Regions from separate parts of the Homo sapiens genome. Here region 2 is linked to region 1. The links come from fine-mapping of genetic effects on gene expression. A gene starts in region 1. The other region holds a variant in brackets. All regions are shown on one strand. Distances are between the middles of the regions. Region 1 holds the start of TMEM242 (transmembrane protein 242). Region 2 overlaps ZDHHC14 (zDHHC palmitoyltransferase 14).

The links. PIP is the estimated chance that this variant, and not a neighbour inherited with it, causes the effect. A credible set is the group of variants that fine-mapping cannot tell apart.
Region 2: its variant is the best candidate, but not a certain one, in a credible set for the expression of TMEM242 in B cells (Fairfax 2012, PIP 0.87).

The regions. Positions count from the first base shown.
Region 1 is chr6:157,322,165-157,325,070 of GRCh38, reverse strand. It overlaps TMEM242 (transmembrane protein 242), which reads left to right and starts at 1,552. Exons shown (of 4, transcript NM_018452.6): 1 at 1,552-1,659; 2 at 2,266-2,366. The coding sequence starts at 1,572. It overlaps TMEM242-DT (TMEM242 divergent transcript), which reads right to left and starts at 1,437. Exons shown (of 1, transcript NR_187268.1): 1 at 594-1,437. RefSeq lists enhancers at 840-1,269, 1,450-1,789.
Region 2 is chr6:157,608,704-157,611,609 of GRCh38, reverse strand. All of the region lies in intron 3 of ZDHHC14 (zDHHC palmitoyltransferase 14), which reads right to left. Among named protein-coding and RNA genes, the nearest start is that of MIR3692, 81 kb to the right of the region's middle. The variant C/A (reference allele first, on the strand shown) is at 1,299.

The DNA of each region.
Region 1 (2,906 bases):
CTGCAAAATAGCTACTGGAATCAAAGGTGGTAATAGTTAGAGCTAACATGTATTGAATATTTATATGTGCCAGGCACTGTGCTAACTTCTTTATAGATGTTGCTTCATTTAATTCTCACAGTAATCCTATGAGTTAGGTACTATCAGTTTTTGTGTGTGGGGGGGGCGGGATGGGGTGGATGGCAGAGTTTCACTCTTGTCATCCAGGCTGGAGTGCAACGGCTCGATCTCGGCTCACTGCAACCTCTCCCTCCCAGGTTCAAGCCATTCTCCTGCCTCAGCCTCCCGAGTAGCTGGGATTACAGTCCCGCATCATTAGACTCCGCTAATTTTTGTATTTTTAGTAGAAACGGGGTTTCACCATGTTGGCCAGGCTGATCTCGAACTTCTGATCTCCACCTGCCTCAGCCTCCCAAAGTGCTGGGATTACAGGCGTGAACCACCGCGCCTGGCCTACTACCAGTTTTTAAATTTTACAGGTGAGGAAACTGAGCTATAGAGGGGCTAAGTTACCCCAAGTTCACACACCTGAGAAGCGGTTTAGGACCCGAGCCCAGGTTTGAGCTATTAACTGCACTTCACTGACGCAAAAATGGATGCATTCATTTACTCATTCATCCAACATGCATTTGATGTTGGTAACCAGTTAATATCTGAAAGCTGGGGGATATAAACTGAACATAGAGTCCCATCTCCATCCTCAGGAAACTCATGCCCTCCGGTGATGGGGGGCAGGACAAATAGCAGAGAGACCGCCTTATTTTACAAGATGTCATTGTTCTCTGAGAGGCTGAAAAGATTTTCTATCACCACTAGCCTCCTCCTCTCCACGGCCATTTACAGAATGGGCAAACCAGCCTCCCAGCGGAAGACCAAGCTTGCTAGCGGTCAACGTTGCCGGCAGCTCTGCAAGCGCTTCCAGCGGGCGTCGCTCTCCTTTCGGGGGTGGTACTTTCATTCGGTCATCCTGTGAGTGTTCCACTTCCCGACGGAGGCCGAGCACTCACACCGCGGCGGAGGTACCCGTCACCGCAGAACCGGGTGGCTGGCTCTCCTCCAGGGAGAAAGCCTGTCACTTATTCCTCAACACTGTTGGGAAGTTACCTAGAAAAGTACAGACAGAAGACCTAGGCTTGCGTTTTAGAATCGTGGAGTGTTAGCGCTGGCCAAATCGTTGGACACAATGTAAGCTTGATCAGGAAAATGAGCTCCAGGGTCTCACAGGCGGGGCCTGGAATCTTGGCGCAATCTGCGACCCTCACTGCCTCCTACAGTCGGGGCTGAGCGTTCTTTCAAACAGCCAAAGTAATCACTTAAGTCCAGCAATGATCTCCTTGGAGAAATCAAAAGATCCTCCCTAAGAGACGGCCTTGGAGGGCATCGCCCCTGGGGCTGGGCACAGCACGTCTTCCCGGCCCCGGCGCGGGAGGAGGGTTTGGGGACAGCGGCCGCACTCCGGACCCTTCTTCAGATTGCACAGGAGGAGGCGGTAGCGGAACCTTTCTCCTCCGCCTGGTTCTCGCTTCCACCCGGGCCCAGTTGGGGACGGACGCACTAGAGGCGACCTAAACATGGAGACAGCGGGCGCTGCAACTGGGCAGCCGGCCTCTGGGCTGGAGGCTCCGGGGTCCACGAATGACCGGCTTTTCCTGGTTAAAGGTAAGATGTGCTGTGGTGAGGTGCGGGCGTCGGGGTGAGTTAACCCCGGACCCTGGCTTGCTCTGGAGCGGGCATTCCCACACACATCCCGCTCTGAGAGCCCTTAGCTTGTGCTTGCCCCTGAGTTTAGCCCGCGGAGTCTGGCGGCCCAGGGAGGGTAGGTCGCTTACTGGGTGGAGTCTCCCCTTGGGCGGGGCGGGGGGCAGATCCCGCGAGCTATTCTCCCGGGCGTGCCATATTTCCCCGTCACCTCTGCAATTGTTCTAGAGCCTTGCCTTTTCTGATTGCCATCGTCTCTTCTCCTCCCCGTGAGAAACTTCACGCTGTGGTCCCAGGGGAGAGGGGAAGGGAAGCTGAACCTTTTCTCTGCGCTCGGGAATAATAATTCGGAATGACCCAAGGAACCAGAGGTCGTGCGGTCACGCGTGTTTCTCAGCCGCTGTCATTTACTGTTAGCAAGAGCTGCTTAGCCATGGTTTCTTGAATTTCAAAAGTGATTTTGATTGTAACTCGAATAGTATCTTAAACTTACTTTTGTACATCTTTTTAACCTCTTTTTATTTAATTTTTTTTAATATCCCCCCTCCTCCCCGAAACTCTTGGCAGGTGGAATTTTCCTTGGTACCGTTGCTGCAGCGGGAATGCTAGCTGGATTTATTACAACATTATCATTGGCTAAAAAGAAAAGCCCTGAATGGTTCAATAAGGTTGGTGACACTGAAATCCATTCATAGCATTGTTATTGTTTACAATATATGGCAGCTTTTGCGTAGAAAAAATAAAATATTGATGGTCTTTCACATTGCTTTAAGATGTGAATTTATATACGCTCATGGATTCTAGAAATGTACAAATTAACCAAGTCTTTATTTTCATTTAGAAGGATGTACTTATGTGCTTTCTTAAATTTTAGCGGAACAAGACTTTGAAAGCTTATCTGGTACATTTCCTATTCACAACATGACTTTGAATCTAAATTTGGGCCAGGCATCGTGGTTCATGCCTGTAATCCCAGCACTTTGGGAAGCCGAGAGGGGCAGATCACCTGAGGTCAGGAGTTTGAGACCAGCCTGGCCAACATGGCGAAAACCCATCTCTACTAAAAATACAAAAATGAGCCAGGTGTGGTGTGGCACTCCTGTAGTCCTAGCTACTCGGGAGGCTGAGGCAGGAGAATCACTTGAACCCAGGAGGCTGAGGTTGTAGTGAGCCCAGATAACACCACTGCACTTCAACCTGGGTGACAG
Region 2 (2,906 bases), 290 kb before region 1:
ACCTTTGCCTTGGAAGAAGGTCTCTTTGCACTGGGCACTGACACTGCAGTTGAGTATCACTGACAAAGCCAGAACAGGATGAAAATGTGCCCGGGAGGCCCCAGAAATTCTGTTGTTGAAGCTTTCCTATTGGCCAGGGATGCTCTCTCCAAAAAACTGTATTAGACATGTAATCTCACTCTTTTGTCATAAACAGTTTCTAAATAAATGCACAGAATAAAAAAGACGTGATACCTTAAAAAATTTACGTTAGACGCATTATTTTACATCAGAATCCTCTATCAAAGCACTTTTTAAAAGTACACATATTGGCCAGGCGCGGGGGCTCATGACTGTAATCCCAGCACTTTGGGAGGCCGAGGTGGGCAGATCACCTGAGGTCAGGAGTTTGAGACCAACCTGGCCAATATGGTGAAACCCTGTCTCTACTAAAAATACAAAAATTAGCTGGGCATGGTGGCGCGTGCCTATAGCCCCAGCTACTCGGGGAGGCTGAGGCAGAAGGATGGCTTGAACCCGGGAGGTGGAGATTGCATCACAGCACTCCAGCAGACAGAGCAGGACCCTGTCTCAAAAAACAAAACAAAAACAAAAACAAACAAAAATGTGCATTTATTCATGGCTCCCAGTCTTACACGAGCATATTTGACAGAAGTCTCCAGAAAGTCCCACAGGGCCGACCAGGCAGTGATTCTGCTTCCTGTGGCAGTTCTATTTCTCATTCTACACTTATAAATTGGCACTCTGATTACGAATTGGCTGCCCAGGCAGCTTGATACCAGGCAGAGAAGCGGCTGGCTTTGCCTGGTGAGAGAATGCTGGCCCCTGTGACAACGTTGGTCCTGCAGTCATCTGTTGAAAATGAACAAATCTGCATTCTGGCTTTCTGCATTCAGGATGAGAGCTCGGACAACATGGGTCTGTCCACAAGCTCCAGTCCTCCAAGTCCAACATTGAGACCAAGGCCGCTCTGTGGGCCAACGCTGCCTCTCCTTCTTGGAATGTGTAGCCCCTCCCTCCATCCTGACCTCCAGGGGCTGTTGAGACTCTCAGGAGTGACCGACAGGAACCTGAAATGTGGAGCCTGTTGAGATAAAAGGAGGCTCTGCAGAACTTCATGGCAGAAGGGTAGTTAGTTTCTACTTCAGGTGTAGATTCTTTTTTATTTTTATTTTTTTGAGACGGAGTCTTGCTCTGTCACCCAGGCTGGAGTGCAGTGGCCTGATCTCGGCTCACTGCAAGCTCCGCCTCCCGGGTTCACGCTATTCTCCTGCCTCAGCCTCCCGAGTAGCTGGGAC[C/A]ACAGGCACCTGCCACCGCGCCTGACTAATTTTTTGTATTTTTAGTAGAGACGAGGTTTCACCGTGGTCTTGATCTCCCGACCTCATGATCCGCCTGCCTCGGCCTCCCAAAGTGCTGGGATTACAGGTGTGAGCCACTGCGCCCAGCCCAGGTGTAGATTCTTGACTCAGGTCGTGGGTGGGATCTGCCCAGTTCAGCTGTCTGTGAATATTTAAGGTGGTTGGGGGTCACTGCGTGGGCCTCTATGATGCCAACAAAGGACTCCCCTGGGATGGCCTGCAGCCCCCTCTGTGATGAACTTCAATGATTCACCCCACAAAGTCAGAGGCAAAATTTCCAAAAAGTATGTTGTGAGATTACTCCCCAGTTCTTTGTCCCCAAGGAGTTGTTGCTACTTTAAGGCAGGCCTGGGTGAGCAGACCCTGATCCAGGCTGGATCTGCCTCTGGGTCCCACTGCTTGTTCCCCTTGACACTTTGGGCTCTTCTTCCAACTCCACTGGCTTCAGCCCCTGCACAGAGCCCCTTCAAGCATTCCATTGCTGTCCACCGGCTCTCCTGAAGGGCTTGCTTACTCCTTGGGCCACCATCTGCAAGCTCAGTGCCCGGCCACCTCCTCTGGTCCCTATTCTGTGACCCCACAAGACAGGGAAAGACACTCACTGCTCAGAGCAGAATGGAAGATGGACTCCCCACTTGTGGCACATGATGGCACTTCTTATTTAAGACCCTCGAGCAACCTACCTCACTCAACACAAAACTCTTCCTGCTCTTTATGACGTTGCTTTGTAAATTGTAGATCACCGGGCAAAAGAGAGAGATGATGATGGGAAGACATTCTGGATAAAGGGAGCATCCTGAGTGCCCTGGCAATCATCCTCAGCTGTTCCTGGAGTGGCCATCACCCTACACAAAGCAGCTTCTCCTTCAGGGCCAGCCGTGGACTTCTCTGCCCAGTGCAAGCTGCCCTCGGCTCCTTCTAAGGCCTCTCCTGTCCAGTGCCATTGCTGCTACATCCATTTCCCACCTCTCGCTTTCCCTCCAGGTGCGCACCTTTTGACACAGGCAGTGCTCAGCTCTGGCTCTTTGGAGCTGATCCCACTGTTTCGAGGTCCTCATGTTTATTTTAGGCTGCCACAGATCAACTTCTGGACCAAGAACCCAAGGGGTCCAGGTAGTTACACTGAATTACATACTTTACAGACTCAGGTCACCAAGCCATGATCCACTTAAAATATGTGAACTCTACTTTTCCTTAAAAGCATTACTTGGTAGCATGGGGAAAAAACCATGCTCTCAGGAACCAGAGGGGTCAAGCACTCTCCTTTGCCCCAACTCCAGGAATTTAATGAAGTATCAAGTCCTGTCAGTTCTTTGGCTGAAATTTTTCTGGAATCATCCACATCTTTCTGTCTCCTTGGCCACTGCCCTGGCCTGGACTCTAGTGCCCTGTCCCGCCCTGTGGGGACAGCCCCCCCTCTCGTCTCCTTGGCTCTGTCGTGCCACCATCCAGTTTGTTCTCTGCTGGAGAGACAGAGGACACTTTTTGAAGCATGCATTTGATAAGGCCACTTTTGTCTCTTGTCCTCAGATAAGATCAAAACTCTTT